Regions from separate parts of the Homo sapiens genome. Here regions 1 and 3 are each reported to be linked to region 2. The links are microRNA targets in miRTarBase. Many come from high-throughput screens and were not tested one by one. Region 2 holds a microRNA gene; each other region holds the end of a gene's coding sequence.
What was found. Region 2 holds the annotated microRNA hsa-miR-3689d (GGGAGGUGUGAUCUCACACUCG, at 860-881, opposite strand). A microRNA usually pairs through its seed, bases 2 to 8, with sites in the 3' UTR of a target mRNA and lowers its output. Matches are read on the target gene's strand: a 7mer-m8 pairs with bases 2 to 8, a 7mer-A1 pairs with bases 2 to 7 and ends in A, and an 8mer does both.

Region 1: miRTarBase lists GINM1 as a target of hsa-miR-3689d. The part of its 3' UTR that is shown has no 7-base or 8-base seed match.
Region 3: the mRNA of BRIP1 is a reported target of hsa-miR-3689d. Seed matches in the 3' UTR shown: 8mer at 508-515.

The regions. Positions count from the first base shown.
Region 1 is chr6:149,590,588-149,593,758 of GRCh38, reverse strand. It overlaps GINM1 (glycosylated integral membrane protein 1), which reads right to left. Exons shown (of 8, transcript NM_138785.5): 8 at 2,011-3,032. The coding sequence ends at 2,921. It also overlaps the pseudogene RPS18P9. Among named protein-coding and RNA genes, the nearest start is that of GINM1, 26 kb to the right of the region's middle.
Region 2 is chr9:134,849,473-134,852,632 of GRCh38, forward strand. MIR3689D2 (microRNA 3689d-2) reads right to left here and starts at 884; the gene lies at 805-884. MIR3689A (microRNA 3689a) reads right to left here and starts at 92; the gene lies at 15-92. It overlaps MIR3689D1 (microRNA 3689d-1), which reads right to left and starts at 210; the gene lies at 137-210. It overlaps MIR3689B (microRNA 3689b), which reads right to left and starts at 800; the gene lies at 653-800. It also overlaps MIR3689E, MIR3689F and LOC101448202.
Region 3 is chr17:61,680,400-61,683,570 of GRCh38, reverse strand. BRIP1 (BRCA1 interacting DNA helicase 1) reads left to right here. Exons shown (of 20, transcript NM_032043.3): 20 at 1-3,171. The coding sequence ends at 275. Among named protein-coding and RNA genes, the nearest start is that of NACA2, 91 kb to the right of the region's middle.

The DNA.
Region 1 (3,171 bases), not on the chromosome of region 2:
TAAAATTCTTACTTGACTTTTATTTTGCCTATGTAAGAGGCTGCACTATAGGCAAATAGGCATTTCTAAACCTGTGCTGCTCATAGTACTCTAATCACTCATTAACTCATGCATACCAAACATAGCTAAAGTAAAGTATTAATGGTATGAGTTAATAAGTGAAATAAAAGTTAATGGTATAAAATTTTAGATAAGATTTCCATGTGTGACTACTTAGAAGAAAATAACTTACCATGTTATCCCAACCATAGAAAACAGAGCCTCAGGAGATTGCGGACCTTGCTGTGGTCCCAAGTCTTACTGAGAAAGACAGAAGCCTGGGTAGGGATCTTCTGACTGCAGAGCCTACACTCTCCAATAGACCATGTAGCCTCCTAAAGTTTTTTCTTCACTAGAATCTGTAAGCTTATGGTTAATAGATAAAATAAGACCATGTCATCATTTGGAGTTAGAACTGGTGCTTTCTAATGACTTAGGGAATGAGAAAGGGTGTAAAGAACAAGTGTTACTGGTTGGTAACTCAAGGATCAAATTGTAAGTTGCAGATTATTTTTTTCAGCAGTATGGAGAGAGTATTGCATAATAGAGCTCCATGCAATGTAATTAATTTAAAGTCTGGCAAAGTGAAACATCACTCCTTCATTCTACTTGTCATCCTCTCCACCCCCATCACACACATACCTATTTGGCCTAAATATAAAGTGGTCTCAAAAAAACCAACCATGGCCGGGCATGGTGGCTCACGCCTGTAATTCCAGCATTTTGGGAGGTCTAGGTGGGTGGATTACCTGAGGTCAGGAGTTTGAGACCAGCCTGCCCAACACAGTGAAACCCCATCTCTACTAAAAATACAAAAATTAGCCGGGCATGGTGGTGGGAGTCTGTAATCCCAGCTACTCAGGAGGCTGAGGCAGAATTGCTTGAACTTGGGAGGTGGAGGTTGCAGTGAGCTAAGATCACACCATTGTACTCCAGCCTAGGCAACACGAGTGAAACTCCATCTCAAAAAAACAAACAAACAAAAAACAACCATTACTTTCTTGGATAGTGTTTTCAAAATGATGGGTTGCAGTATATATATATATATATATTTTTTTTTTTTTTTTTGAGACAGAGCCTTGCTCTGTCGCCCAGGCTGGAGTGCAGTGGTGTGATCTCGGCTCACTGCAAGCTCTGTCTCCCGGGTTCACACCAATTCTCCTGCCTCAGCCTCCCGAGTAGCTGGGCCTACAGGTGCCCCCCACCACGCCCGGCTAATTTTTTGTATTTTTTTTTTTTTTAGTAGAGACGAGGTTTCACCGTGTTGGCCAGGATGGTCTCGATCTCCTGACCTCGTGATCTGCCCACCTCGGCCTCCCAAAGTGCTGGGATTACAGGCATGAGCCACTGTGCCCGGCCAGTAAAAATATTTTTTAATGAAACAACAGAAAGTATCACATAGAGGGCCAGGCGCGGTGGCTCATGCCTGTAATCCCAGCACTTTGGGAGGCCAAGGCAGGCAGATCACAAGGTCAGGAGATCGAGACCATCCTGGCTAACATGGTGAAACCCCATCTCTACTAAAAATACAAAAAATTAGCCGGGCATAGTAGCGGGCGCCTGTAGTCCCAGCTACTCGGGAGGCTGAGGCAGGAGAATGGCATGAACTCGGGAGACGGAGCTTGCAGTGAGCCGAGATTGCGCCACTGCACTCCAGCCTAGGCGACAGAGCCAGACTCCATCTCAAAAAAGTATCACATAGAGATGAGTTATATGTACTCGTTCACATTGTAAAATATTAATATGTCAATATGAGTGATGGTTAAAAAAGGTAATAAAACACTTTTAGGGTAAACAGCACTATATCTAGAACCACAAGACCAAGGGCACAGTCTAATTCATGACATCAATGGACTCATTCAATTTGAGCCATGGTTTCAGCCAGTGTAAATGAAAGTATACCTACTCCTGCATCTCAGCCATTCTTACCTGGGCAAAGGTTTTATATCAGTGTAACCAAAACAGCTATACTTTTTTCCTCAAAAAAAAAAAAAAAAAGTTTATTTTAGAGTGAGAACATGTCATACTACTTTTAAATCTTGGAGCATTCAAGGTAAGTAGTCTTGGTACAGGATACAATCAAATCATGATACACTTCAGTGATTTTATACTGAGTCACATACTTAATATAAAGGCACACTGTACTGAATAAAAAAATAAGTGTTAAGTTCTTGACCTTTTAAATTAGAATTTTATAAAGTGCTTTTCATAAAGTCTTATATATTATAGTAATTAAGTGGATATAATTTCCTTAACAAAGGCACCTTGAAAAGTTATTGGCACATGAGATTTTGTCTGGTCTTTTTTTTTTCTTTTGATAATTTCAAAGTCTCTTCACATGTGTTCTCTTCCACTTTAAGTTTTCCTTAACAATTCATCATATGAATAGCCAGCCCTTTTAGAGAATAAGGTCAACTTTTTTTTTTTTGAAACAGAGTCTCGCTCTGTCACCCAGGCTGGAGTGCAGTGGCGTGATCTTGGCTCACTGCAGCCTCCGCCTCCCGGGTTCAAGCAATTCTCCTGCCTCAGCCTCCCAAGTAGCTGGGACTACAGGCGTGCACCGCCACACCCAGCTAATTTTTTTATTTTTTTTAGTAGAGACAGGGTTTCACCATGTTGGCAGGATGGTCTTGATCTGACCTCGTGATCCGCCCGCATTGGCCTCCCAAAGTCCTGGGATTACAGGCATGAGCCACTGCACCCGGCCGAGAATAAGGTAAACTTTAACTTGGCACTGTAAAGGTCAATTTTCAGGCAGTCTTAGAGTTTAGCAATTTCTCTAGTGTATAAACTGATTCTTAACGATTTAAAGAAAATTATATTCAAGTGGCAAATTTGGAGGCAACAGGCTACTTCGGAGTCCATGATATGAGATGGCGTTTTAAATACATGTTTTATCTTCAAGGTTTTCAGCTCTTTTCTCTGGACCATCTGGATATAAGTTGATAGCTGTCACAGGTATGACGTCCACTTTATCCAACTGAAGAATTCCTCTGAAATAGAAAGTGATTAATTACTATCAAAATTAAATGTTTCCTCTGCCTGTAGTTTGATAGTGAGAAAAGGCTACTTCAAGGTTATAATATACACCTAAGGTTAGGTGCTTTTGCTACATTCTATTTAAAAATTCAT
Region 2 (3,160 bases):
ACGGGATCACACCTCCCAGGAACCACGATATCACACCTCCCAGGAAGCACAGGATCACACCTCCCAGGAACCATGATATCACACCTCCCAGGGAGCACAGGATCAGACCCCCCAGGGAGCACAGGATCACACCTCTCAGGAAGAACAGGATCACACCTCCCGGGGAAGACGATAGCACACCTCCCAGCGAGTGTGAGATCACACCTCCCAGTGAGCGTGGGATCACACCTCCCAGGAAGCATGGTATCACACCTCCCAGGAAGCACAGGATCACACCTCCCAGGAAGCACGGGATCACACCTCCCAGGAAGCATGGGATCACACCTCCCAGGGAGCACCAGATCACACCTCCCAGGAACCACGATATCACACCTCCCAGGAACCACGATATCACACCTCCCAGGAACCACGATATCACACCTCCCAGGAACCACGATATCACACCTTCCAGGAAGCACAGGATCACACCTCCCAGGAAGCACGGGATCACACCTCCCAGGAACCACGATATCACACCTCCCAGGAACCACGATATCACACCTCCCAGGAAGCACAGGATCAGACCTCACAGGGAGCACGGGATCACACCTCCCAGGGAGCACGGGATCACACCTCCCAGGGAGCACGGGATCACACCTCCCAGGGAGCACGGGATCACACCTCCCAGGGAGCACGGGATCACACCTCCCAGGAACCACAATATCACACCTCCCAGGAAGCACGGGATCACACCTCCCAGGAACCATGATATCACACCTCCCAGGAAGCACAGGATCAGACCCCCCAGGGAGCACAGGATCACACCGCTCAGGAAGAACAGGATCACACCTCCCAGGGAAGACGATAGCACACCTCCCAGCGAGTGTGAGATCACACCTCCCAGTGAGCGTGGGATCACACCTCCCAGGAAGCATGGTATCACACCTCCCAGGAAGCACAGGATCACACCTCCCAGGAAGCATGGGATCACACCTCCCAGGAAGCACAGGATCACACCTCCCAGGAAGCACGGGATCACACCTCCCAGGAACCACGATATCATACCTCCCAGGAACCATGATATCATACCTCCCAGGAAGCACGGGATCAGACCTCCCAGGGAGCACGGGATCACACCTCCCAGGAACCACGATATCATACCTCCCAGGAACCATGATATCACACCTCCCAGGAGGCATGGGATCAGACCTCCCAGGGAGCACGGGATCACACCTCCCAGGAAAGCACGGGATCAGACCTCCCAGGGAGCACGGGATCACACCTCCCAGCGAGTGTGGGATCACACCTCCCAGGAAGCACAGCATCACACGTCCCAGGAAGCACGATATCACACCTCCCAGGAAGCACAGGATCACACCTTCCAGGAAGCACAGGATCACACCTCCCAGGAACCACGATATCACACCTCCCAGGAAGCACAGGATACACCTCCCAGGGAGCACAGGATCATACCTCCCAGGGAGCACAGGATACACCTCCCAGGGAGCACGGGATCACACCTCCCAGGGAGCACGGGATCACACCTCCCAGGGGAGCCACAGGTTCTTAATGGGACAAGGCCAGCGCTTAGCAGAAGTGTTCCTGGTGTTTCTTGGTGTCTGCCCATCAGTGGCCCCCACCTGGCTGCCTGTTGAAGTCATCCGGGGAGCCCCCTAAAAGTACGCATTCTAGGTCCACCTCTAGGCCTTCTAAGCCAAGCCACCCGCGGGGAGGTGGTGGTAGAACCTGCAGTGTGTGAGGTCCCACACCCCACCCCATAGGGTTCTCTGCTCGGCTACACTTGGAGCTCACTTCACTTCAGCGGCATGGAGACAGTAGCCCCACCCGTCCCCACACACCCGCACTTCTGCAGGAAAGGGCCTTCCGTCAGAGCCCACAGCGGGCTGGGCCTGCAGCTGAATGAAGTCAACTACTTAAACGTCCTGAAGAGGGAAGGAAACCACACTGAATAAAGTTAGAGGTGTGCACATGCAACGTTCTGCATGCTTTAGAGTTACAGGTGTGCACAGGTAGCATTGTGTGTGCTTTGGATGGAGTTGGAGGTGTGCACAGGTAGCATTGTGTGTGCTTTAGATGGAGTTGGAGGTGAGCACAGGTAGCATCGTGTGTGCTTTAGATGGAGCTGGAGGTGTACACAGGTAGCATTGTGTGTGCTTTAGATGGAGTTACAGGTGTGCACAGGTAGCATTATGTGTGCTTTAGATGGAGGTGTGCACAGGTAGCATTGTGTGTACTTTAGATGGAGATGGAGGTGTGCACAGGTAGCATTGTGTGTGCTTTAGATGGAGTTGGAGGTGTGCGCACAAAGCACTGTGTGTGCTTTAAATGGAGTTGGAGGTGTGCACAAAGCATTGTGTGTGCTTTAGATGGAGTTGGAGGTGTGCACAGGTAGCATGGTGTGTGCTTTAGATGGAGTTGGAGGTGTGCGCACAAAGCACTGTGTGTGCTTTAAATGGAGTTGGAGGTGTGCACAGGTAGCATTGTGTGTGCTTTAGATGGAGTTGGAGGTGTGCACAGGCAGCATTGTGTGTGCTTTAGATGGAGTTGGAGGTGTGCACAGGTAGCATTGTGTGTGCTTTAGAAGGAGATGGAGGTGTGCACAGGTAGCATCGTGTGTGCTTTAGATGGAGTTGGAGGTGTGCACAGGCAGCATTGTGTGTGCTTTACATGGAGTTGGAGGTGTGCACAGGTAGCATTGTGTGTGCTTTACATGGAGTTGGAGGTGTGCACAGGTAGCATTGTGTGTGCTTTACATGGAGTTGGAGGTATGCACAGGTAGCATTGTGTGTGCTTTACATGGAGTTGAAGGTGTGCACAGGTAGCATTGTGTGTGCTTTAGATGAAGTTGGAGGTGTGCACAGGTAGCATTGTGTGTGCTTTAGATGGAGTTACAGGTATGCACAGGTAGCATTGTGTGTACTTTAGATGGAGTTGGAGGTGTGCACAGGCAGCATTGTGTGTGCTTTAGATGAAGTTGGAGGTGTGCACAGGTAGCATTGTGTGTACTTTAGATGGAGTTGCAGGTGTGCACAGGTAGCATTGTGTGTGCTTTAGATGGAGTTGGAGGTGTGCACAGGCAGCATTGTGTGTGCTTTAGATGGAGTTGGAGGTGTGCACAGGCAGCATGTGTGTGCTTTAGATGAAGCTGGAGGTGTGCACA
Region 3 (3,171 bases), not on the chromosome of region 2:
CTAACAATTCAGATTGCATTTTAGCTAAAGACCTTTTTGAAATTAGAACTATAAAAGAAGTAGATTCAGCCAGAGAAGTGAAAGCTGAGGATTGCATAGATACAAAGTTGAATGGAATTCTGCATATTGAAGAAAGTAAAATTGATGACATTGATGGTAATGTAAAAACAACTTGGATAAATGAACTGGAACTGGGAAAAACTCATGAAATAGAAATAAAGAACTTTAAACCATCTCCTTCCAAAAATAAAGGCATGTTTCCTGGTTTTAAGTAATAATACTTAACTCTCAAGCTAAGTAAAAATATGTCATCATGCTTATGTTAAACTCTGTTGTAAGTAATAATTTGTAAATTGAATAAGTGGCATACTTTTTAAAAAACTATTTTATGTTCAGAAATGTAAATGTTATTATTCTTGAGTTTTTGGGTTTTTTTTTTTGAGACAGAGTCTTGGTCTGTTGCCCAGGCTGGAATGCAGTGGTGTGCTCTGGGCTCACTGCAACCTTCACCTCCAGGTTCAAGTGATTCTCCTGCCTCAGCCTTCTGAGTAGCTGGGACTACAGGTGTGCACCACCATGCCCAGCTAGTTTTTGTATTTTTAGTAGAGATGGGGTTTCACCATGTTGGCCAGGCTGGTCTCGAACTCCTGGCCTCGTGATCTGCCCTTCTCTGCCTCCCTAAGTTGCTGGGATTACAGGTGTGAGCCACAGTGCCTGGCCCATTCTTGAGTTTTGATAAAGTAATTCATACAAAGTACTGTCCTCAAATAAGTCTTCCTTAGCTAAATGCAATTTAAAATTATTCAAAGATCCTAGGGCACTTCTAGTTTCACGTAAATATTCATATTAGGTGGTTCTCTTCATCCATTTGTTTTCACACTGATACATAAAAATTAACAGCAGTCTAATCTAGTGACACCTCAGTCATATTTCGCTATAGATTTTACCTCAAATCAGTCCAAGACTTTTTCAGAGATCACCATTTGTCTTGAAAGGTTTATTTCGTTATTAAACTGCCTACTTATAAGTAATTAAGAGAAATTAAGAAAGTAGTATGCATTTTTAATTGAAATTGTTTTACATTCTTTGTATAATAAACCTAAAACCAAACATGTCATAAACAAATTGACGTAAAGATATAAAATGCCAAATGAAGTATTCCAAATTTTCTATTCTAATTATTTAGCTTCACCATCATTGTGGAAAAAAATACTAGATCCTGCTTAGTATTATATATTTTTCCTAGTGGATCAGTGAGTAATAAGTACCAAACACTAGACTAGAAGGTAATTTCTACATTGTTTAGAAAGGGTGAAACAATTTATCCCCTCTGGTATTGTTCTAGCATAAGCTTTAGTTATACAATGATTAAGATAGAAAACTTCATATATAAATTTGATAAGCAAACCCACATTTATAGCTGCAGCTAAAATATGTTTCCTTAGGGCACAGTAATCCTTTCTGTGAATTTTGACCTTGTTTGTGTTTTTGTGAATGAAGCTATATGTCTAATCAAAAATGATTATAAAAGAGGCTCATCTCTGACATCATTCCAAAAATACATTCATTGATCTCTTTTTAAGAAACATCTGTTATTCACTGGGCATTGGGACTTTTTGTGAGTAATTTGAATTGAAATTTTATGAGCTATCCAAGAATTCTGTATGGTCTATTATTTTCAAGTCAAAATTTCCAGTAAGGATTTACTTTACATTTCATTTGGATAAATGAATCATTATATAGGTATGTCTTTGCTTCCATTTTGAGACATTTAGATTTTTACAGCCTGTTTCTATAGCATTTGATGTTACAACTCTAAGCGTAGTTCAAAGACATTTAAATTGACAAGTTACCAGTTAAAGAATTTAGAATATATTAGATCCCATCTAGTATTATATATTTTTTCTAGTTGATCATTGAGCAGTAAATACCAAATACTCGATTAGAAGGTAATTTTTACATTGTTTTGAAAGGGTGAAACAATTTATCTCCTCTGGTATTATTCTTAAACCACAGATAGGGATAGTAGGGTAGTGAAACGAATAAATACCTGGTAGAAGACAAGAGACTTGGGCTCTACACCTGGCTCTGCCACTGATTTGCTAAGTCATATTGGCAATCACCACACCCTTCAGGGAATTAGTTTCATCTGTAAAATGCAGCGGTTAGTACTATAAAATCATACAAATTTCTTTGTGCTTTGAGAATCTATAAAGGAATGTCTGTTGATATTCTGAGTCGATTTTCATTTGCTTTTGTTCCAGAACGGTTAAAATAAAGCATATTATTTCATTTAAAAAGTAAAGTGGCTCTTACTCATTTACATTTAGGGAACGATGGTGACGTGGTTTGGCTATGTCCCCAGCCAGATCTCATCTTGAATTGTAGTTCCCATAATCCCGACGTGTTGTGGGAAGGACCCAGTGGGAGGTAATTGAATCGTGGGGGCGGTTACCCTCATGCGGTTCTCGTGATACTGAGTTCTTATGAGACCTGATGATTTTATAAGGAGCTTTTCCCTGCTTCACTCTCATTCTTCTCTCCTGCTGCCCTGTGAAAAGTTGCCTTCCGCCATGATTGTAAGTTTCTTGAGGCCTCCTCAGTCATGCAGAACTGTGAGTCAATTAAACCTCTTTCCTTTATAAATTACCCAGTCTTGGGTATGACTTTATTAGCAGCATGAGAACAGACTGACACAGATGGTATATGTGCATAATAACTTGGAAAGCTAGATATTTATTTTCGCAATGCTACAATTAAAACATTTTGAGGACTTTTAAAATTACCTTTAGGGCCAGGCGCGGTGGCTCACGCCTGTAATCCCAGCACTTTGGGAGGCCGAGGCGGGCGGATCACGAGGTCAGGAGATCGAGACCATCCTGGTTAACACGGTGAAACCCCGTCTCTACTAAAAATACAAAAAATTAGCCAGGCGTGGTGGCGGGCGCCTGTAGTCCCAGCTACTCAGGAGGCTGAGGCAGGAGAATGGCGTGAACCCGGGAGGTGGAGCTTGCAGTGAGCCGAGATTGCGCCACTGCACTCCAGCCTGGGCGACAGAGCGGGACTCCGTCTCAAAAAAAAAAAAAAAAAGAAATTACCTTTAGAATTGGTAAACTACATGAGAAAATTAAGCATATTATTCATATCTTAGTGTTATTACCCAACTTCATC